Regions from separate parts of the Homo sapiens genome. Here all the other regions are linked to region 4. Evidence: fine-mapped expression QTL. A gene starts in region 4. Each other region holds a variant in brackets. All regions are shown on one strand. Distances are between the middles of the regions. Region 1 overlaps TNIK (TRAF2 and NCK interacting kinase). Region 2 overlaps TNIK (TRAF2 and NCK interacting kinase). Region 3 has its middle 25 kb from the start of TNIK. Region 4 holds the start of TNIK (TRAF2 and NCK interacting kinase).

Region 1 (6,067 bases), 170 kb before region 4:
GGAGAGAAGGAACTAAGAAAACATACAGTTCTCTGAAATGTTTCCTGGATTCTTTCCTCTTTTTCCACAAAAATAGAACTACTCTTTTTCTTTTTTCTTTTTTCTCTTTTGATGGGGGATGAGGATTATACAGAAGATTTGGCAACCTAAATGAACATGAGAGAAAGCCAATAGTATAACTAAAGGAAGGGGATCGCCAAAACCATTCACTTAGGGGAATTTCAAACTTTGGTGCTAAAGCTTCCAAATAATCAGCATCACCATTCACCAAGGAGCAGAGGAGTTCGGTCTTGCTGACTGCCAGTTAAGGGCTCTGAAAAAAGACAGTCTCCTTGGCAGCCGTTCCAACCTGGCTCCTGCCCCCTGTGAACCAAGGAAAAGTGGAAATCTAATTCCATGTAGCCTGGAAGAAACCTTACAGGTCCAGGGCTGTGGAGAGGTCGGGTGAGGAACAGGAGTTCCCACCATGCCACTAGGGTTCTGGAAGCCCTGGGAAGCTGCCAGTGGCACTGCAGCACCAGGAACTGGTTCCTAGAGAACTGCCTCAAATCAGACACACATAAGGAAGTCAGGCAGTGATGGCGCTGCATGGGAATACAAGCAGAACAATCTCCTCAGAACTACTTCGAGGGTACTGTCTCTCAGCCATCTTCCAGGTTTTCCACAACCCACAAAGGTCTTTCAGGTGGGTATAATTTGGGGTTACTTGTTAAGATGGAGTTACAGCACAGCTTCATTGGCAAAGACAATGGGATCTCATATCTAGAAACAAAACTTTCTGGGTTTCACCATTTGCCCGTTATCCCCTGAGAAACATCAGCATCACCTGTTAACTTGCTTGGGAATGCAAATTCTCAGACCCAACCGAGACCTATGAATCTGAAACTCTGGAGGGGGGCGGCAGGGAGGAGGGCAGGAATTTGTGTCTTAGCCCCTCATTGTTAAGATTCTGATGCACACTAAAATTTGAGAACCATTGAGCATTCTAGAGCAACACAATTTCATGAAAAAATAGCTTTGGAAACAGCATCTGGATATTAGGCAAAAATATGTGCCTGAATAGAAGAAACACACTCCGTTCATAGTAGGGTTCTATTCCCCAATTTTTTAATTTAGTAGTTCTTTGTGAAAAATGTCCTCTCACATGCAGCATTTTAAAATGAGAAATCTGGGGCCTTCTCAACCAACTTCACACCCGCTTTCCAGGGCAGCTCAAAACAAATTACTGATAAATCAACATGGGGCACTCTGAATCATCAGTCCGTCTTTAGAACTCCCCACATGGTCAGCTGAGGCATTCCATTGAGAATGCATCATGTCTTGACTTCTCTCTCTGGCCAATCCTGCCGTCATTGCATTTCTTAATAAACCTCCTGCATGCTAAAAAAAAAATAAAAAATAAAATCAAATGAGCAATTTATTGCAAATAGCCAGTCCCAAAGAAATCCTTTTGCCTTTGTTGTTTCCCTCAAAATTGCACATTATTTAAGGGGCCTGTCTTTTACACATTTTTATTAGCACCTAGAGCAATACAAATCCTCCACAAACTCTAGCAAATATGTATTAATACAGTAATAAGTAATTCTAAGAGCAAGCACTCAAATTAGTAAGGTCTGGTTTCCTGTAGATTACTAAAGCAGGGAAGGAGTAAGGGGGAGAACTCAGAGAAAGCGTGCGCTGACTAAAAGACAGAAAGGAAGCAGAAAATTTATTCTGAGCAGATGCCAAGACTTTGCCACATGCTTACAGTAAGAGAAATGGAGAGCAGAGAAAATTATTTTTAAAACCTTCTTTCCTTGAGAACTAAGTTATCATAGCCCTGCTTTAAGATATTAGGTAAATACTTTTTCAATGCAAGACATAGGTGGACCCAGAATATTAGCAAGAAATGTGCCTTAAATTATTTAAAGGATACAGACTATTTATTTTCCATGGACAGGAATCATCTGTCTTCATTCATAAAATTCAAGCTGATAATTTTTTGATAAAACTGTTTTCTTTATAAATTGTTAATAAATAAATAAATTGTTGATAATGTATCATTTCTACCCAAGACTGGAACAAACACATCAGCCACTTAAATTCCTCAGCAATACTTAGGCTGCTGAATTTGTTATCAGTGGTAATATATGTTAGCTTGCCTGACTTTAACTGCATCTCCTCAAAGAAAAACGTAGATGAGAAAGTAAAAGTGTAGAGGTGGTGTGGTAGAGTGGAAACTGATGAGCTTTTCCGAAGTAGAGCTGGATCCTAATGCCAGCAGCTATATTGTTATGACTAAGTTAATTGACACTCAGGACTGTTTTCTCACCTATACAGTGAAGGCTGTGGCACAGTTTAAATGTGTTCATGTGTGTACAGTGCCTGTAAGATGATAAACACCAAATCAGTATTATTATTATTAAGAGGCACCCATTTTCATTTTAAATCAATTTATTAGATGTTAATAAAATTAACCCCTATTCCTCCATTCTGCCTTCCATTATTTGGCAGATAAGAAAGCTCTGGCCCAATTGTTCTCAACTCTGGCTGTATATTACAATCACTTGAAAGTTCTTGTGTGTTTTTTTAACTGCCATCTCGCCACAGAACAACTGGATCAGTGTCTGGGGCAGGCCCCAGGCCTTGGTGATTCTGATGTAGTCGGAGAGTTGAGAAATACTATTCCAAATGGATTCTTTACCAAAATCACTTCGGGGCAAATTGGCTATTCTGGAATTTGATCATTTGATGGTTTGGCCTGCTCATCCTGAAGGATCAGGAGGATACAGCCTTATCCTATCTTAGC[A/C]TTCTTGGGAGATGTCTAGTACACCCTATGGCAAAATAAATACTATTCCATATTTCCTGGTTAGCCTTTGCTGGGGAGAGAGGGGAGAGGGGTATATGTCTGATGATGAGCCATTGAAGGAGAACATCTGAATTAACTAAAGATGGTGGAAGAGACAAAAGATTAGGTTAGCTATTATACTTTAAAAACTTCTCCTTCTCCTCCTTCTTCATCCACCACTGTAACAGATATCTGAGGAGTCCCTACTATAGTACTTAGAAAACTAACTGAAAATAGGACAATTCATGAATGCCCTGACTCGTTACATGGAAATTCAATAGGGAAGGATCTATTCAGGTATCTCTGGAAGAAGAAGGTCTTCCCATACTTCTCCACAATTTAAGTCATTTTTCATAGTCTAAGAATATAAGAGTATATATTGTACAGCCTGGGCAACATGGTGAAACGCCATCTCTACTAAAAATACAAAAATTAGCTGGGTGTGTTGATGCACACCTGTAATCTCAGCTACTGGGGAAGCTGAGGCACAAGAATCACTTGAACCCAGGATGCAGAGGTTGCAGTGAACTGAGATTATGCCCCTGCACTCCAGCTTGGGCAACAGAGCAAGACTCTGTCTCAAGAAAACAAACAAACAAGAAGTAGACATTGTAAATTGAAACATAAAACTTTAGAGGCAGAAATGTCACCTTGGAGAGCAAACAGATATTTAATATTTGTTCTCAATCAACATTACCTGATACCAGTTACCAGCCAGGGTTATGCAAGGTACTTCTATTTACACAATCTCATTTATGACACAATGTTGTAGTTTGAAGAGCTCTGTGTGCTGTTATAGTCAGGGAGTCCTCTTGTAATGATCAATTGCTACAGCAATTTAAACCTTCTTTAACTTAGGTTTATGATGCTAGAATTTTACTTTTTGTATTCATATCTGTTTTTATGGCGTACTGTTGGTAAGATGGTTTATATGATGCCAAGTCTTTGGTCAGAAAAGATGCTGCTTTCACAATGTTGTTCTCATAGAAAAACATAAATCACTTTGTGGTATTGTTTCCAAGAACATGCTAAGGCAAGTAGGGGTTTTCCCTACAGTCCTCAGGGCAAGTTCAAGATTATTCTGGGTATTATATGCTGCTGCAAATATTTCTTCCCATAGGCCAACTGAAAAACTCAAAACAAAACAAAAACAGAAACAACAAAAAAAACCCTCAAAATTGAACAAAAATTCTCATTTTCATTGTTAAGAAAATTTTCAACTATTAGTTATGTTGTCAAGTCCTATTTTTATCATTGATTCTTTTCAAATTCAATATATCTAAAATGTGGACTCAGATGTATCTAATCAACTATTTTTGCAGCTTTTCCTTTGCTTTTAATGCAAACTCTAGAATAAGAACATTTAAGAAGGTCACCCCAGCTGTGCACAACCTGAATCCAACAGGATTCCAACAGGATACTTGGCTTTAACTTAGAATGTTGGCTTTAACTTGGAGTAATGGCATGGAAGTCTCCTAACAATTTCCACTATGTGTTATGAATAATCTAGAACTTTACTGGAGATTTTACTCTATTTTACAGTGATATGGCTTTAAAAGACTATAAGTTTTGATTCCAAACAAATCTAGTGCAATAGCAGGTCAACTAAGGTCTTGAATTTCATTTAGTATTTTATTCGAGATCAGTATTTACAGTACTGACAAAACTATTTAAGATCATCAAAGTCAGTGAACTCCTTCCTTTACATTTATTTGATATATAAAGGGCCAAATTGTTCAAATGATGCTTGAAGTGAATGGTAGAACCAGGCTAGTCATTTCAAAACAGGATGCTGCTATAAAGACACATGCACACGTATGTTTATTGCGGCATTATTCACAATAGCAAAGACTTGGAACCAACCCAAATGTCCAACAATGATAGTCTGGATCAAGAAAATGTGGCACATATACGCCATGGAATACTATGCAGCCATAAAAAATGATGAGTTCATGTCCTTTGTAGGGACATGGATGAAATTGGAAACCATCATTCTCAGTAAACTATTGCAAGAACAAAAAACCAAACACCACATATTCTCACTCATAGGTGGGAATTGAACAATGAGATCACATGGACACAGGAAGGGGAATATCACACTCTGGGGACTGTGGTGGGGAGGGGGGAGGGGGGAGGGATAGCATTGGGAGATATACCTAATGCTAGATGACGAGTTAGTGGGTGCAGCGCACCAGCATGGCACATGTATACATATGTAACTAACCTGCACAATGTGCACATGTACCCTAAAACTTAAAGTATAATTTAAAAAAAAAAAAAAAGAAAATATTTGGGTGGAATGATCAGTTGAACAATCAATTAAAAGTCTGACCCACAGAAACGAACTTTCCAGATGATCCCAGATTTCCAAGGAATACATTGGTGTTGTACTATCCACCATAAGGGCTGGTGGCATGAGGAACATTCAGGAGCCACGGACAACAAATTATGCTGCTTCAAGAAGTCAATGGCTGGCCGAGTGCGGTGGCTCACGCCTGTAATCCCAGCATTTTGGGAGGCTGGGGAGGGCAGATCACAAGGTCAGGAGATCAAGACCATCCTGGCTAACATGGTAAAACCCCGTCTCTACTAAAAATACAAAAAATTAGCCTGGTGTGGTGGTGTGTGCCTGTAGTCCCAGCTACTTGAGAGGCTGAGGCAGGAGAATTACTTGAACGTGGGAGGTGGAGGTTGCAGTGAGCTGAGATTGCACCACTGCACTCCAGCGTGGATGACAGAGCAAGACTCCATCTCAAAAAAAAAAAAAAAAGTCAATGGCTGGCAGATTTGAAGCACTAACAATATTTGGCAGTGTTTCTTGAAATAAACATTTATCTATTTGGAGAAGTAGAATGAAATGAAATCTTTTTGAAAAAAAACATTTAAAAAATTAAATTTGAATTTGACTCATAGGGATTGATCACAATTGAAGAATTTGACCTGCAGGGACGAATTGTTCAACTGATCCAATAATTTAAATTATAATGTATATGTTCTCATTCTAAGCACACTTCCGAGAGCAGCAGAAGCAGTTCAAGAGGCATAAGGGAAGCTTCACAAATAGCTCATTAGCTCAAGAAGTAGATGAAGTGGGGGTAAGAATGAAAAAATGGTGAATGTCCCAAATTGGAAGTTAGAACACCTGGTTCTGCAAAGACTAATTGTGTGTCCTGCCTCTAAAGTAGATATTCAACCTCTCTTGGCCTTTGAAAGAACCTGTAAAAAGAGAATATGAGAATT
Region 2 (6,067 bases), 210 kb before region 4:
CCAGAGTTACCCAGGAAGGTTGGGACATCTTTTTAAGATACTTTAACAATAAAAAAAAAAAAAAATAGATCCTCAAGATTTTGGTATAATCAAGGTGTTACCATTATCAAATGGAAGAGGGGAAGAATAGATTGATTTTAAAAATCTGTGTACTAATTTTTACAGTTTACATATTTCTTTTCTATAGATCATCTCATTTGCTTCTGGTAACTTTCCTTTGTCCAAGAATTTACTCACTACTGAATGCCTCAAATGCAGGTCTGAATAAAATGCTATTTCTTGCCCTCATGGAACTTATAATCATGACTTTCTTTTGTTATACATTTTCGGTATTATGACTATTTTGATTTAAGTAAATCAACATCAAATCCTATTGGAAATAAGAGAGAGAGAAAGAGAGAGAAACAGACAGACAGACAGACAGACTTGGGGGAGGGGAGCAGATGAAGAACGGAAGTAGATGCTTGTGTAGGGCAGCCTTGAAAACACACAGGAAGGAAAGCAAAGAAGGCCTGGAGGGTGCAGCTTCAGATAGAGGGAAAGGAGCTATGTGTGAGTGAGGGAGGAAGACGAGTGTGCTGCAGGAGAGGGTGAGAAAGGTTGGATTGTTCTGCCTTATTCCCTGAGCCTAATTTGCTTAGATAGAATCCCAAAGCCATTCTCAAGTCAAAGAAAAAGATACACCTTTGAGACAACAGTGGAAACTAAGATGGCTCCACAACCATGAGTAATAAATTAGATCCCACTGACACTTGGGTAGAGAACCAGATAAAAAAAAAAAAATGCCTTTCTATTCATACTTCAAAACAAAACAGATTCTAATCACCTCAGCAAAAATAGGAGGGCTGGAAATAATAGATAGTCTGTAAGATTTGTAGCTGGTAAATGAAAAATTATTATTAATAGCTAATATCTACTATGTCAGGTTCTGTTATAAGCATTTTACACACATTAACTCATCACAGCCCATTATGCTGTTACCCTCATTTTACAGATAAGGAAACGCACAAAGAAGTTAGATGACTTGTTGAAAGTATCTATTATTTAACATAGGCAGCATCTCATTTGACTTCTGCATTTTCTTTATTGCTTCCTTTTAGCAAACAAAAAAAATATTTCTAAGAGCTTTCATTAGATTGAAAATATTTTCAGAGTTCACTTACAATCTTAGTCTTTCTAGCACTAGTTTTTCCCTCAAGATCTTGAGTTTTCAGCTATTATTTCTCAAAATGGAGTTTTCAGAAGGCAGGCGGTGACTTCAGTCTAGGACATACAAGGTTTGCAGGAGGCTGGCCGCTTGAGAAGTTGATATTATGATGCGCAGATGGCCAAAAGTTCCACAGAGCAACCAACTCAGACTGGGCTGAACAGAAATGGTAGCAAAAGTAGGACTTTAATTCAGTCCTAAAAGATCAGAAGAATAAGACTGGGGGGAAGACAAGGAAGGACATTTCAAGCAACAAGTAAAGGCACTGGCCAATGTATGAGGAAGGGCTTAAGTCTGTGTATGGCTATGACATCACATGTGTGTAGAAAATAGCAGGATATGCAATTGGAGAAGACAAAGTCCCAATGAAGAACAGCTTCCTGTGTCACGTAAGGAGTACGATGTTAAAGAGTTTACACTTGGGAGTTACAAGATCAGACTGGATTCCAGAAAGGTCACCCTGTCACCATCTTCCCCACTCCTTGCCCACCTTCCTACCCGCTACCACTCAGATCCAGGATTGCAGTTCATCTGTCCTCTACCAAGATTTGGAGATGATTAATCCAGTCAGGATCTGAAACAAAGGCTGGCAGTGAAAAGAGAATAGATCCAAAGAATAAATAAGTAGAATCAACAGGACATGTAGATGGTGTTTTGGAGAATTGAAAGAGAAACAGAAGTCCTCCAGGAAGATAACATCTCTGGCTTGTACAATCTAGGTGGGTAAGAGTGCCATTCTTTGAGACAGAAGACTCGGGAAAACATGAAGAAGGCAGGAAGTGACTTCAGTCAAGGACATAACAAGGTTTTCGGGGGCCGGGTAGACATCCAGACAGATGTGTCCATTAGTCCAGTGGAGAAGACTGGGCTTCAGGAGGTCAAGTCAGTCTACAGAGACAGAAGGACTTGCAATGAACCCCAAGAAAAAACAACCAGCGGGTGGGAAAAAAGAAAGCAGCAATATGACTGCAAATCAAGGAAAGAGAAAGTTTCAGGAAGGAGGATGTGATGAGTTTCAAAAAGGAGGGTATGGTCAGAGCCAGTGCTACAGAAGACCAAGTGAAATAAAGACTAAAAAGAGCTCATTCAATCTGGCAATTATGAAGCCCCTGGGACCTTACACAGCAATGCAGGGACAGACATCAGTTTGTATAGAGTGAAGGAAAAAATGGGAGGTGACTATGTGGAGGCAAAGAGGGTAGAAAAAAGTTGCTTGGTCTGAAAAGAGATGAAACTAGTCCTGAGGTCTCGCTGAAGATGACTGCAGGCTGGGAGGAAAGGGGCAATTCTGGGCAAGGGAGGAGACAACAGAAACAGCAGGAGGAGTCCTCTCACACAGAGGGAAAAGCTTTACATTGAGTTAGGATGAAAGAAGGTAAGAATGTGGGAAGAAGATGAGTTTGAGAAGAAAGGCAGAGGGAGACCTGTGGGATATTTACCCAATAAGGGATACCTGTCCAATGGCTCCAGTTTTTCTAAAAGGCATAGAAGAAGGTCACCTGTGGAGAACAATGAAGGCAGGGGCAGCGGAAGGGAGGAGAGGAGAGTGGTGGAGATTGGGAGCAACTATTCCAGGGAAAACAGGAGAAGGAACTGAGCAGGTACATACACAGTTGATTATTAAGCAGTGCTGAGTTGAGCTGTGCAGCCCAAATGCAGAAAAATAAACAGCTAGACTGACCTTAGGGAAGGGGTCTGCAAGGTGGATATTATGGAAGAACAAAGGATAAAGGAGATAGTACATGTTGGCTAAAAATGATTAAACTAAGAAATCATGAGGCCCAAGGCTGGAGAGACAAGTTATTAAAGTTTCATGGGGACTGAGAGACTGACAAAAGACCCGAGGGCTTAGTCAACATCAAAGAACAGGTGTGTAGGGTGTGAGGGAGTACAGGCTGGAAGCATCAAAGGCTGTGGTCTAAGATTGGGATGCTGTACATTTAAGATTTTAAAAGCAAAACAGACCTGGGTCATAAAAAGTCCAGGTTGTGAATAATAAGAGTGGGGTGTCATTCCAGGTAATAGCAATATAACTATAGTATCAATATTATACCATTTTACAAGTGAGACAAGGACTAGATGACTTATTCAACATCACAGCTGGTTAATGGCAAGGCTAAAGTTTCAATCCAAGTCTTTGCTGCCAAGTCTTATTGACCTTGTCATACAAAATCATTTTACTTGGTACCTTTTTCTTTCAGCCTTTGAATAAGAAATAATAAAATGGTGATTTTGCTTTCAGACTAGGACGACGTTATAAATGAAAGAAAGCTATCAATCTGACTTAAAATGCAAGTGAAAGTAA[C/T]GGTTTTATTTTCAGAACTCTGGTTATTACCCATAGTGTAGGAGCTTATGAAATTCTGTTAAAGTGTATCTTTGCATACTGTTTTCTTATTATAGAAACATTAAAAGTAACTAGCTATTGAACATGGCAACAAAAATAGTTAAGAACCACTTTATCTCATAAAACATAAATTTCAGCCTCCAGTGGCATGTCTGCTATTATTTCATAATTCTGGGTCCCACTCCCTATTAAGTCCAAGGCTGTGTCAGGATGATTTAGGAAGATAAAGCAATGTTACACCACATATTTTCAACCCAGGTACCTTTAGGCATACATCCAAATGTGAATATCAGATCTGTACAAATGTAAATGGAGTTGTCATTTTCTTTGATTAAGAATCACTCAGGCTCTCCATCACCATTACTAGACAAGACAGAGTGGCCTGCTGCCAACTTAAGGGGGCTGGAGGGATGGGGCAGTGGTGTGGAAATGGCAAATTAGGGGCCTCCTGCAGTGAGTTACTGCTCACCAGTCCTGGGCAGCCCTTAGGACATTATACATTAAGACACATATTCAAATGGAATGATGGTGGTACACATCAGCATAATTCACCTCAAATAATTCATTACAAAAAGACAAATGAACAAATGTCAAATTTGCTGCCTATGATATTAGCTATTACTGTCTTGTACGATATATATTAAGTGAGGAGCCTGCAGGAAAGCATATACAGTTATTCCATAGCTATTTATTTCATCCACTCTTGAGGCAAGTAGCGTCTTTCCCTGTCAGTTGGAACCAATCCAACCCACCCAACCCAACCTACCTAGACTCCCTAACTGTTCCTAGCTATCCTGGTTTCTTACTGAGCTAGTAACTAATAGTTTGCTTTTACTGTATATCAACTTGTCAGGCTAAGGTTTTACATGATTACTATTTAATCCCCACATTGCCCATGTGAAGTAGGTGCTACTACCACCCCCATTATACTAATGAAGAGAGCAAAGCACAGTCCCAAAGTCAGCCAGCTGGTAAGGCCAAGCTCTTAGCGATGCCTGCATGCTTCTGCCTTTGTTACTCCGCCTTTCAAATTTCACCCAACTTCTGCTCTATAGCTTGATGGCACATGTTCAGGAAGAATTCCCATTTACTTCAGTCCATACTGATTACTCCCTTCTCAGAAGTAGCTCATCCATACCTGGATGGAAGCTTTGCTTTCTGGTAATGCCAGCACCCTCTAATTTTCATGGGACAGGCCTTGGAGAGACTGACCCAGTCTTGTTTGCCTGGGAAAATGGTGTTGATGGATGGACAGCTTCTTTGTGGTAGTGAGATTTGGGTTAAATAGCTCCAGTACCTTAAAAATTCCAAGATGTAACCTAAGCCCTAGTCCCCCAAAATATTCAGAAACAGGGATTCCTAGAAATCTAAATCATGCCCTTTAAAAATTTCGTGTCCAAACCTGATAGACTTAAAAAATTAGAAATGAAGAATATTAGAGACATTCATGTCCACTGATATTAACCCCTTCCATCCTACTTCTCTAAAGCCATGCAGCTAGCTCAGAGAAAAGTAGGAACTCCAACTCCTTCAGCTGTGGGAGGTGGGAACAACACAGGCCCTGTGGTCAGATACCTTCAGTTCTGTCACTCACTGGCTGTGTGACCATGAGGAAATCATTCAGATCTCTTTAGATCTCAGTTTCCACACTAAAATCAGAGAAATGATACTTAAGGCCGTTATAAGAACTAAAATAGCTAATGTGAAAGTTTTGTAAACCATATAGTGCTCTAAAAATGCTACAAACTTCCATTATTATTCTACATTTGGGATTTCTGACTTTCATGACAGAGATTTGTTTTTATCTTGCAATCCTCTGCTGCAACAATTATCAATTGATGGTGTCCCAGACCACTGTCAAAATACAGTGTACATTATTCAAAGACCCCAAATACCAAATGGTCACAAGCCTAGTGTGTTATTATGTCTGAAAGTGTTTGAGTGACCAAAGAATGACTGAAGCTCTCATCTAAACAGCAGAAGGAAAACCAGAATAACCCAACAAAAGGTATCATGTACACACATCAACTACCAGACAGGTTAAAGGTGGGCAACATCCTATGAGAGATGAGACTAAATTAAAGCACATGTTGGAACCTGCCTGTGGTCTGGGAAGAACAGCAGATACAGACAGCAGAGAACAGCAGGAACAGACAACAGAGACCGGGACACAGATATGAGAACTTCCTAAAGAAGGAAGAAGGGATGAGTCCATTAAAAGATGACAATTTAGAATGTCAAGAGTCCTCTGGTGTGTTCTAAAATGAGGCTGGCTACTTGTGTTGTTAGAGGCCTGAGATGATGTCTACATGTTTGGGTAATGATCTTGGATGATATGAACTGATAGCTAGGCCCAGAAGTAAGAAACAGGTACTGCCATAATAGTTATCAACCTTCCTGCCACAGTCTTGGGATGAGTTCCTCTGTCCTGGGCAAGTTGGCTGGGGCTGAAGCACAGAGCAAGGGCCATTGCAAGGTGCTCCTTATTAGGACATTTTTCATCTAACTTAGACCCA
Region 3 (6,067 bases), 25 kb after region 4:
GCTGCATTGGTCCTCACCCTGTGTTCTTTGTTCATAATAATAATAATAGTAGTAGTAGCAGAAGTAATAATAATTACCATTTTCTAAATGTGTCTCTTCTATCAGACTCCTTATTTACATGCTCAATTTAATCTCCACAGTTGGTTGGTATTATTATTTCCACTATATAGTTGAGGAAACTGAGGTCAAGAGTTTTTCAATACATTGCCCAACGTATCAGAGCCTGTAATGTTGAATCTGGGGATGTCTTATCCTAAAACCCATTCCCACTCCTAGCCCCAGGCAACCACTAATCTATTTTCTGTCTCCAAGTACAGAATGTTTATGCATAAGATTATGAATTTGCCTAAGGAGAATCACTTGAACCTGGGAAGTGGAGGTTGCAGTGAGCCAAGATCGCGTCACTGCACTCCAGCCTGGGCAACAGAGTGAGACTCTGTCTCAAAAAAAAAAAAAAAAAAGATTATTTGCCTATTCTGAGCATTTCATATAAATAGAATCATATAATATGTGACCTTTTGTGACTGGCTTCTTTCACTTAACATTATGTTTTCAAGATCCATCCATGTCACAGCATGTATCAGTACTTCAATCCTTTTGTGGCTGAATAATATTCTATTGTACAGATTTATCACATTTTGTTTATCCATTAATCAGATGATGGACATTCGAGTTGTTTTTACTTTCTGCCTATTATGAATAACATTGCTATAAACATTTATGTTAAAAGTTTTTATATAAAGATATGTATACAATCTTCTTACTCAGAGTGGAATTGCTGGGTCATATGGGAACTTTAACTTTTTAAGAAACTGCCAACCTTTTTACTAAAGTGGCTGTACTGTTTTGCATTCCTACCAGCAATACATGAGGGTTCCAGTTTCCCCATATTCTTACCAACACTTGTTATCATCCATCTTTTTGATTATAGCCATTCGAGTGAATATGAAGTGGTATCACACTGTGGTTTTGATTTGCATTTCCCTAATGACTAATGATGTTGAGAGTGCCATCTAATTTTATATTATTGTTCTTTGTGTGAAAAGGACAATCCCTAAATTTTAGTGGATGCCAAATGAAGAATTGTCTAGATAAATGTTTCTCTCCTCTGTAATTCACATTCTAAACTTAATATAATATTTAAAATACTAATTTGCTTTTCTGTAGTAGCCAAAGGAAAGGCTTTGCTCCTGCTGCAGATTTGTGTGTGTGTGTGTGTGTGTGTTTGTGTGTGTGTGTGTGTGTGTGTGTGTGTGTGTGCTTGATGTGTTATTTGTTTTGTTTTTATATGGAGAAGGTTTTAAGTACAAAAGAAGTACGTACAGACACTGATGGTCTCTCAACCACCTGCCTCAGCCCACCTGACTTTAGAGCAACTTCAATGCACATTCCATACACTTCCTGTGCACACCTTGAGGGCACACTCCTGGCGCTTGTTTGCTTTTGGCCTCAGGGCTTTCTCCACAGCCATAGAAGGCTGCTCATCTGGATCCTAGAGCCCAAAAGTGCAAGAGAAAGAAGAGAGGAGGGTAGCTTTAATACTGACCCCCAAAGGGAACCTTCAGTCAATAAGGTTTAGAAGTTGATGGATAAACACTGTAGCCTCTCATCCCTTGATGGGACAATTCTGGAGCATGGTCAACTCAGTTCCTTAGCAATGCCCAGCAGACATAAGCCACAGTTGCTCACAGTGGAAACCCACTCCTTAAAAACCACTTTATTGGCTTTCCTCTTTTCTTTGTCTCAACTTCCCAGCTCCCACATTTCTGCTTCCTAGGATCACCTCAAAAATAAGCTACCCACTCAAAAGTTCTTATCTCAGTATCTGCTTTCAGGGAAACCCAAATTATGTAAAATTATGAAAATGAAAAATGGATAAATGAGTAAAGGCAGCATTAATTGATTGAAAATTTGCAAACAATTTACTTTAAAGAATCCCTTTTGCTATTTTTCCACCATGGACCTGATGTTTTAAAGATTTTTTCCTATGAAATAAATTGTATTTGTAAGATAATAATAAATGTTGTCTTAAGGTCAAAGACAATCTGCTTTTAATACTAGTGTTTTCTCCACCAAGATTATATTATTTTTGCCAAAAAGCAAAGAAGACTGGAGTTTTAACTAGTCTACTTAATATTTATGTGTGTGTGTTCCATTCGACTTGTTCAAAACAGTTCCCCAAGTCTGATTATTATACTGTATTATTTTTTAAATAGACACACAGCACATGGTGGGAACCCAGAGGCTGAGAATTCCATACTAGCAAGTTCTTCCCACGAAGGGTGTTTTGGGGACCAGCGATAGAGCGGTGCCAATCCCTAGGTCCTAGCTGTTGGCAGCTTTCAGAGCTTGTTTACACTCTCTTCTTTTTTGACTTGTGATATCCCAGTTTGGTTTGTAGACCTTGAACATTTCACAAGTCCCTTGCCTCTATCTTCTTTTTTTTTCTTTATAGACAGAGTCTTGCTCTGTTGCTCAGGCTGGGGTGCAGTGGTGTGATATAGTTCACTGTAAACTCAAACTCCTGGACTCAAGCAATCTTCCCACCTAAGCCTCCCAAGTACCTAGAACTAAAGGAGGTCACCACCACACCCAGCTAATTTTTTTGTTTGTTTGTTTTTGGTAGAGATAAAGTCTCACTGTGTTGCCTAGGCCGATCTTGAACTCTTGTCCTCAAGCAATTCTCCTGCCCTGGCCTCCTAAAGCCTTGGAATTACCGGTGTGAGCTACCGCACCCAGTCTCCTTCCTCTATCTTAAGTCAGCCATCATGCCACTTAACCCAGACTTGGCAGCTTTGTGTGGCCATCTCTCCACAGCTCCACAGACGTTTGTTATTCCCCAATCCGCTGTTCTGTCCTAATTGCCATCTTCTGCCAAATTGAGAAATAATGAGACTGGCTGAGGCAGGATAGAAGAGCAGTGGTATCAAGTTAGAAGTCCTGGGTTCTAGTTCCAGTTCTGCCCTTCCTCGTATGGAGACACTAGACAAAGCATAATCTACTTGAGCTCCGTCTTCTCATCTTTAATGTGGAGATAGCATGATCAATTTTGAATTCTCACAGGGTTTGAGAGATAAAAACTTCTTCAGAAACAATAAGGCAAGGAAGTTCAGTGTAGTGTTGTTTTTGAGATTGAAAAATTAGAACTGGACTTAAGTATTTAAATATGAGGGGCCAGTTAAATTATGACATAATCATTATAATCTTTGCAACCATTAAGAATTATGTTGGAGAATAGTTAAAGGTGTTGGAAATTAAGTGGAAAAAAACAAATTATAAAACACTTATGTGAAAGTAGAGATTACCAGGAGTGGGGTAGAGAAGGGCATGAGGAGT[T/C]ATTTAATGGATACAGAGTTTCTGTTTGATGAAAAAGTTCTGGAAATGAATAGTAGTGGTGGTTGTACAACATTGTGAATGTACTTAATGCCACAAAAAAAATTTTTTTTTTTTGAGACAGAGTCTTGCTCTGTTGACCAGCCTGGAGTGCAGTGGCACAAGCACAGCTCACTGCAGCTTCTTTCTCCTGGGCTCAAGCAATCCTCCCACCTCAGCCTCCCAAGTAACTGGGACTATCAGCACAAGCCCAGCTAATTTTTGTATTCTTTGTAGAGACAAGGTTTCACCATGTTGCCCAGGCTAGTCTCAAACTCCTGGGCCCAAGCAATCCCCCCACCTTGGCCCCCCAAAGCGCTGGCATTACAGGTATGAACCACCACACCCAGCCAGAGTTGTACATTTAGAAAAGGTTAAACTTGTAAATTTTATGTTATGTATATTTTATCACTATAAAACAAAAGGTAGCTGGAAGGTTGACGAAGGTAGTTCTTAATAAGGTGAAAAGAAAAAACAGTTCTCATGTGAAATCATGGAAATTTCTTGTAATTTATGACTATTCTAATTTTCATGGGCATATAATTAGATGAGCTATTAAATTATTTACTTGAAATTTTCGGCACAAAAATAAATGTGTTTGTATTTTAAAAACAATCTGTGTAGGGTGATCCTATTTTTAAAATTTATGTATATATATTATATATGCACATTATAAACATATACACATATATATGCAAACTACATGCATATCTGCTTTTTCTAAATTTTCTATGGTGAATATTTATTACTCCTACAACAAATGAAGTACCATATAAACCATAAGGAATTTTATTACTTATATGGTGGCTTTGGCCTGTCATAGTGTATAATATGCAACTGTTGCCAAAGGAATATGTCTCAGGTAATCTCCAATTGGTGGCTTACTTGAATTTGCAGGTGGAGACAACAGAATATGCAATGTTTGAAAAGTGATGGACTCTGTGGCTCATTTGAGGCCTTGAAGTAAGTCCATTATATTTGGAACATTATGTCTGTGAGTGGATAGTGCTGGGATAAAGGGCTCAGGATGAATCTGGAGAGGTAGGCAAGTAATAAAGAGACAAGTTGAGCACATTAGAGTTTGGACTTATCCTAAGGGCAACAGCAAACCACTAATGGGGTTTAAGCCAATGAAATCATTAGGTTTACACATTAAAAAGATTAAGGTGTTTGCCTCATGCTAAAGGCACCAGAGAGGAGCAAGACTGGAAGCGGAGAGGTTGATTATGAGGCTGTCATAGTCTCCCAGGCCATCTGGACAGGAGTGGTCACCAGAGGGATAAAGCCTGTGGATCTGAGACACATCTAAAAAGTAGAACTTTTGTGATGCTTAGTTCTGATTGGATATAGAGAAGAAGGGTAAGCACTATCTAGGATGCCTCGAGGTCTTAGCTTTGGGCAATGGAGAAGGGGCTGTGTCACCTACTAAGATACGAATCAAGTAGGAACTTGTTTGAGGGTGGAGGAAAGTAACAGGTTTATCTTGGAACCTGCCGAGTTTGGTGTCTGTGCAGTTGGAAATCCAGAAAAAGGAAAACTCAGAAGAGGTATCAGGAGCCAGTGGCATATAGAGGGTAACTGAAGCCATGAGAGTGGACAAGATTTCCCAGGAAGAGCGTGTAGAGAAGAGGTTTGTAGTCTTTCTTGGGAGTAAAGGGGTGATAATCTGATGAAGTCCATGAACCTTTCCTTCAGAAACATTCTGAAGGGGCTTGGTTGTTAAGCAAATGGAAGAAATCAGGACATAGTTGAGGGTTGTCATGAGGTCAAGAAAGATTGAGACTTAACTATGTTTAGATAGACAAGTAGTCAGGAAATGATTAGAGAAACAGAAGAGAGGAAGAATATTCAACGAGAAAACCAAACCCTTGAGAAATGACAAAGAGACTGGCTCCCTAAGACAGCAAAAGGCAAGAGTGTTAGGCAAAAGCAGGGGCAACTTTTTAAAGTCAGGAACAAGGAAGAAAAGCTAGAAGAGAACGCAGGTGAGCTTGTGGGTTGGAAGTTGAAGACTTTCTTATCAGATGACTTCTGTGGACTCAGTGAATAGGAGGTGAGGTCATCTAATGAGAGTCGGCAGAGGTCACAGGTCTGTGAAATGTCCACTGTAGAGATCAGATATGGAAAACACTATGAGATTTCTAGGCAGTAGAAGCCCAGTTAAACATGGGGACCAGGCATATATAACGACATAAATCTGGGTGATTTTTCTTCAGCAAATCTTGAGATCCTTGGTGAAAGTGAGAAGAATGCAATGGTTCAATTTTTTAAGGGCTATCAATTTGCCAAGGATTGTGAGTAAAAGATAGCAGGGCAAAGGAGATGAAGAGTCAAATGAGAACTGATCACAGAATGATGAACCAGGTATCAAAGCTGTCTGGAAATAAAATGAGGTCAGAAAGAGAATGATGAAAGGAGACAATGGAAATACCTAGGGATTAAAAATACCAAAGCATGCAGCCAGCCAACCTGTGTGCTCAGCAGTTCATTTGTTTTAAAGACTTTTATTTTTATTATTTTTTAAAATCACCAAGTGTCTTGATGCACCTATGTTGTAGTTTGATCATGAATTCCTGACCAGAACACTGAAGCTGAGGGAAGCCATTTGAAATCAAATTCCTTGTTCCAACCTAACAGCAAAGACTGTATAATCATTAATTTGCCTTTCAAATACAGGACCAGAATTAGATAGTAA
Region 4 (6,067 bases):
TTTAAATGATCAGTGCTGTCATTGGTTGCTCTGGTTTAAATTATGCATTGTTGCTATTTGGGGAAAATTTAGACTGGGTCCGGTCTGGAATCACTGGCTGAGAACAATAAGCCCCCAAAGTGAGAAGGATAAAGGCCTCTCTAGACAGGATCTGCTTTTAATGCTTTGAGCCCAGGGTTTACAAAAAGAGCATTGACTGTGTACATTAAAGAGCCACCGAAACAGCGAGGGACTGGTAAGTCTGCAGCAAATTCTCCCAGAAGCCACTGACCTTGGCTGCATTTCAGGGGTCAGGCATTCCCCAGGAGGGGCTCAGCAGGCAGACTTTACCAAGGGCTTAGGAACAAATGAGACATCTCATCTAGATGAGGCCACCTCTCCAAATGTGGCAAGGTGGAGATGATCTGCCCTCTGATTTGTGGAGATTACCTATGTGGCCTTTGGACCCACTCCAGCAGACACACCTCACCCACAAGACTGGTCAAAGACCCTGGCCCTCCAGGATATAACTGTCTCCACATCTGCATCTAAGTCTTCTAGCCAGCAGTTCCTGGTCCCCAAGCTAGCTGTTGCCCTCTCTGTTTCCACACCTCCCAGCAGGCAGAAAAACAGAAGCAGAGCCCTAAGCTGATAGCCCAGGCCACAAAGAGCAATTTCAGTGAATTGTGCAAAGATATATTTTCAAAATACAGATCACAAGAAAGCACATCCCAAGTGTGAACCGCAGTCGTCCGCCCAGTGGGCCCTCACCGGTTGCTCCCCTGCCTGCAGGCTCCGTGCTTGGTATCTCAGAAAACCTTCCCGAGGAAAAAGCCCATAAGGGACAAGTCCCGGCCCAACTTAAAATCACATCAGACTGCTTTCCAGTAGAGGAGCAAGGTCGAGATTCCGGCCCAGGGAAATCACCGCAAGCCCTGCGCATTGTTCAGACCCCTTCCCCCTTTGCCACTTCCCGCCCCCCACCCCGACCTCCGACCGATTCGCAGCACCCCACCCCCAGTCGGGGCCATCCATCCACCTGATTAACTCGCCGGCAGCAACTCCCAGCGTAGAAAGTAGGGCAAATGAACACACACAGTCGGTAAAGCAGGAAGCCACAGACCTGGCCAATGCACCCACCCTGTTACCAACCCCACCCCGCTGCGCAGGGGGCAGCCGGTTCTTGATGTGGCATTTCCACTCCAGGGAAATAGACAGCTTCCTGTAATAATGCATGAATGAGCTTTGGCTGCCCAACTATCAGAACAGCCCATTTCAAACGGCATCTCTGTTTCTTCTCAACTCCTTACTTGCCTTGCTGAAACCTCATCTCTTAGCCCAACAGATTAAGACGAAGAGAGAAAGACTTATTCAAAGAGATGTGGAGGAAAAGGTTTAATTAAGGAGACCAAAGAGAAAGTACCACTTTGATCACAAAGGTAGCACTTTAATATATCAGTGCAGATAGCGGCAATGTCAGAAGTACTAGGAATCCAGGTAAATGGCCCCAAGATTCAGCATCAATCTAACAATGTATTCCTCAGGAGGGCGTGTGAACTTCCATGCTTCATCCATCCTGGTGTCTCCCTGTAGAGAGCCACCATGAATTCCTTCTCATCCACCCTCCATACATCAAGTATATGCACTCGCTTTCTTTTTAATTTTATTTTTGGTTCGGGAGAGGAAGAAGCAGTCCTTAAATTGGTGTCCAATCCTTCTCAGACACCCGCTGCTGCCACCATCCCCACCCCTCACCCCCTTCCAGGCAGGCAGCATCTAATTAAAATGGCAAGAAAGCTCTGCCCCCTTCCCCAAAGGAGTGTGTTGGGATCGGGAGTTGGGGGTGGGGAAGCGTCGAAGCAGCACTTGGATTCCTGGTATTCTGATCTCAAAACAACAGCAAAATGGATTCTATATCAGTGATGTCTTAGTCAATACAATGAAACGGCGTCTGAGGTAATTCACGTGAAGGTAAACGCAAACCAGTGGGGCTGGGGGGAGGGAGGTGCTCTACAAAGGACTGGCCACAGACACGGGGAAAACACACACAGACACACACACACACACACTCGCACACACTCCAGGGAGTTCCGGTCTGATTGAGGAAAAGCAGAAAACACATCCCTTTCACCTGCTTAAGTTCAGCCATAAAACTGAAACGTTACAGCCACAAAGTCAGAAAGAACAGGCAGGGCTGAGTTAAAGCCATAAATAAAGGTGAGTGGCAGACTGGCATTTAAGGGAGCGCTGAGAGGGCGCCCGGGCGCGGGAGGTAGAAAAGGGGGAGGGGGAGGCAGTTGCCATCTACAAGACCAGCATAGCAATAACTGCCCCCTTGGAGCGGCAGGTTCGGCTTCGCGGGGACAGCCAGCCTCACAATGTCATCTTGCAGGTAGCTGGAAAACGTGAGGGGCCAGTGCCTTTATTCACGCTGGCATTCTTTTTGCAGAAGGGACAGTCGGGTCTCGCGCCTTGGCACCAGACAACTGCCCGGGGCGTGTACACACACACACACACACACACACACACGCACACACGCCTTTCATTTTAATGCTCTTACACCGGTATAAGATGAAACTGGCATAAGCTCTACGAGCCCTCGGGAGAGCCTAAGCCACGGCCAGAGGAAGACACGTACCGCACAGCCCCTGCCGTAGGGGCTCAGCCAGGAGCACCTCAGCAACCCCGAATCAAAACGGGAATCCAGGTTCCCTCCCCGACGCATTCTCCCGCTGCTGTCCCCCTGCCCCAGCCCCAGCCCCCAGTCCACGCACCGAGCCCATTCACCCTAACCCAAACCACTGGAAAGAAACCAGAAAACGTCCTGCTCACCCTCAGAGCCGAGAGATCTATTTCATCCAGGCTTCGAGCCGGGGAGTCGCTCGCCATGTCTACTTCTTCGCTGGAGAAATGGACCAAAACCACCCCGAAGCTTTTCCCTTGGAAATTCCACCTTGGTCTATTTCACTCGCGTCCTCATGCGGGTGTCGCGCCAGAGGCCCCGGGCCCAGCCTCCCCCGCCCACCCCAGCCCCACAGCGCCGGATCCCGATCCTCCGCGCGTCGGTCCGCCGGGTCCGGGAGCCCAGCCTGCGCGGATCTCCAAGCCCCGAGCAGCGGTGCGTGTGGGCTGAGCGCCCCGATCGGCTAAGGGCGCTGGGGCTGCGTGGGTGTATTTAAATGGGACATGCTTCTTTGCTTGTGCGTGGATGGCGGCTGCATTGGCTGTTATAATGAGACACATCAACTCCTCCACTCAGCAGGGGGAGGGTGGGGGTGGAGAACCACGCAGAACTGTCTATCACCGCTTCCTGGGAGGAGTGAAGGGGGAGTGGGGAGGCGGAGGAGGCGTGGTCTTGGACTGGGGAGAGGCCGCGCTTCCTGACCCGGTCCCTCTGCACCAGCGTGGAGGGGGGAGGGGCGCGCACCCTTTCCGCCCAGGCTTTTGCGGGCTCCTCGGGCCGAACCCGAAGGGGCTGTTCCTGAACCTTGACTTGTTATCATAGGGACCCAAGCTCTATTTTTGTGTGGCCAATTCGTGCACTGCAGCAAAATGGCCCTTCAGTCGCGTCTTGGGGTTTCTCCTCGGTTCAAATGCTCTCGCGCTGAGAAAAAGCCGGAGGAAAAAAAAGCGACACCCTCCCTCCCCCATTAATTATTTGTGGGGCCGGAGTAACGCGGGCTGGTGCAACCGGTGCATATAAGGACTTGTGTGCAAGGAAGGGGATCCGCCTCCAGGCGCGGAAAGAGTAGGGAAGAAGCGCACACGCACAGTGCACCCAGCTGGGCGCTTCGGCAGTTTGCAGCTGCGGCGGGGTCGGGTCCACCCGCGGTCCCCGGAATGCCGGACGGCTGATCCCGGGTGCTGGTCACTCGCCGATTCGGGGCTGGGAAGGTTTGCCAGAAGCGGGAAAGATGGGAGATCTGAGCGCTCTCTTGGCATCGCCACACCCAGGACTTGCTCGTGCCGCAATTCCCCACGGAAACAACCGAGTTGAAACGAGAAGCTTGCTCTCTGGGTGCAGTAGCTAGAAGGCTTCAGGTAACTCCAAAGCCAACACTGGGTGAGGCAACACACGCCGCCTCAGGACTCAGCATTTCTTTCAGGCTGCGTTTTCGTGGCAGACCTACCCAGATTGATGGAGAAAGTTTGGCTGGCGGATAAGAAGTAACGCGGAAGATGTGTACGTGAGAGCGATTTCACTTCACTCACTTTCTCATTTAAAGGTTGGATGTTTTACAGTGGTATACATGATTCTCCTTCTGTAATCAAGAGTGGGAAGTCGCTTCCCCCAATCCCCGCGCAGCCCTTCTTCTCCCGCCTTAGCCATGCAAAATACCTAGAAAGAAAACACTAAAACTGAACTTTTTTCCAAATACAGCAGTAGCTTTGAAAGCATTCTTTGCTCCTCTGTTAACAGCAGAATGTAATTCTGACCACTGCACTGATGGTTTCTTAATCATGCAGTATGAAGATCAGCTTCAAAATAAGTCTTATGAATGAATGAATGAAAGCCAGTGCAGTTAGTTCATCATGACTGCAGACATTAGAGGACTTTGAAACAACCTTTGGTGTACATTGTACTGTTTTTGTTACTGATATTGTATGTATTCATATGCATTGTGGATCATGCACCATGAAACTTGAAAATTGTTCCAACATCTCAATGGCCACAACAGTTTGGTAGCTTTTGCCTGTAAACGTTGTATGTAAACATTTGAACGTGTTATACTAAATTACTAAACTCATTTTTTACTAAAATCATCTGGTTCGACATAGTAAGTAACGTGCAGTAAGCCACCACGTCGAAATGAAAAAAAAAAAACAGATTATTTCCCATCATTGTCTTTGTTTTTTTCTCTTCTGTGTTCCTGTTTTTTTACCGTTCATCTAGACAACAGGTTAATGTATTGTCTCAGGGTTGAAAGAAGATAATTTAAGATCAAGTATTAAGATCTATAAACAACTATTTTTTTAAAACTGCAAACATAAGGAAATATGAGTTAAATATTTTTTCCATGGAAAGCCTTCGTTTTATACTCATGATTATATTTGAAACATCACAAACAGATCAACTTTTTTGACATTAGTGAGCTGTTTGGGCCACGAGGGTGCCAAGTTGGCATTCAGATTTAGTTTAGTTTTAGATGAGAAAGTTATAGATGCAGTATGATGCCAGGTGCTAAATGGAGGAGGGCTTCCTAAGAGCCTGAGAAGTTGATGAGACAGCCAGGGGAAGGCAGGGGTGTGGGCTGCAGGAAATACCATAAAAGGAGAGATTGCAGTATCAAAGGGACCTCCAACTGGTAAAGGAAGGTGAGAAGGAGGAACTTGAACTTTTTCCTTTTGGTCAAGTGTGTATCAAATTTCAGCTATTCCAGTATAAATTTCCTAATTTTTTCCTATGTCTCTGTATTGCCTGTACTATTTTACCACTTACTTAACATTTTTCTTTAAATCAACACTTTTTTCTTACACTTAATATAAAAGAAAACATAAATCACTACTCTAAATGGAAAGCCAACAACACTTGCTTTGAAAAAAAAAGGGGGGAGGAAACCATTAAAATAAATATAATGGAAAATAAAGAAGTATTATTAAATTCTAGCTAGCCATCAATTCCTGCTCTGGGCTTCTAGCCTAAGGCCTACTCTTAGTTTGTTAAAAGAGAGAATAGCAAATACCAGGAAAAACATTCAAGACTTGAGATTTTTTTCTTGATGTAATCTGAAGGATTAAGAGAACTGACACCATTTATGTGCAGTTTGAAAACCTGCCGAATAATACACTATGCTGTTTACATATGTATAAATATGTAGTAAACTATATAAAGCATGGATACAGGCAGTAAGGATACAGATTAACTTCAGGATAATGAGAAAAGAGGAAGAGGAAAAGGAGACTCCAACAATGATACCTAATTTTTTTGCTAAAGATTTCTGCCAGGCACGGTGGTGGCTCACACCTGTGATGCCAACATTTTGGGAGGACAGGTTGGGAGGATAGTTTGAGTCCAGGAGTTCGAGACCCGCCTGGGCAACTTGGTAGAACCCCATCTCTACAAAAAATACAAAAATTAGGTGGGCAT

The links. PIP is the estimated chance that this variant, and not a neighbour inherited with it, causes the effect. A credible set is the group of variants that fine-mapping cannot tell apart.
Region 1: its variant is the best candidate, but not a certain one, in a credible set for the expression of TNIK in tibial artery (GTEx, PIP 0.64).
Region 2: its variant is the best candidate, but not a certain one, in a credible set for the expression of TNIK in whole blood (INTERVAL, PIP 0.65).
Region 3: its variant is the best candidate, but not a certain one, in a credible set for the expression of TNIK in whole blood (INTERVAL, PIP 0.87).

Annotation. Positions count from the first base shown.
Region 1 is chr3:171,283,227-171,289,293 of GRCh38, forward strand. All of the region lies in intron 2 of TNIK (TRAF2 and NCK interacting kinase), which reads right to left. Among named protein-coding and RNA genes, the nearest start is that of TNIK, 170 kb to the right of the region's middle. RefSeq lists an enhancer at 2,120-2,179. The variant A/C (reference allele first, on the strand shown) is at 2,789.
Region 2 is chr3:171,245,517-171,251,583 of GRCh38, forward strand. All of the region lies in intron 2 of TNIK (TRAF2 and NCK interacting kinase), which reads right to left. Among named protein-coding and RNA genes, the nearest start is that of MIR569, 140 kb to the left of the region's middle. RefSeq lists an enhancer at 5,583-5,662. The variant C/T (reference allele first, on the strand shown) is at 3,513.
Region 3 is chr3:171,482,178-171,488,244 of GRCh38, forward strand. No RefSeq gene overlaps it. Among named protein-coding and RNA genes, the nearest start is that of TNIK, 25 kb to the left of the region's middle. The variant T/C (reference allele first, on the strand shown) is at 3,337.
Region 4 is chr3:171,457,196-171,463,262 of GRCh38, forward strand. TNIK (TRAF2 and NCK interacting kinase) reads right to left here and starts at 3,210. Exons shown (of 33, transcript NM_015028.4): 1 at 2,812-3,210. The coding sequence starts at 2,868. LOC124906303 (a long non-coding RNA gene) reads right to left here and starts at 976. Exons shown (of 2, transcript XR_007096168.1): 1 at 751-976. It overlaps LOC102724479 (a long non-coding RNA gene), which reads left to right and starts at 2,023. Exons shown (of 3, transcript NR_189068.1): 1 at 2,023-2,196. RefSeq lists a silencer at 2,840-2,899 and an enhancer at 3,911-4,411.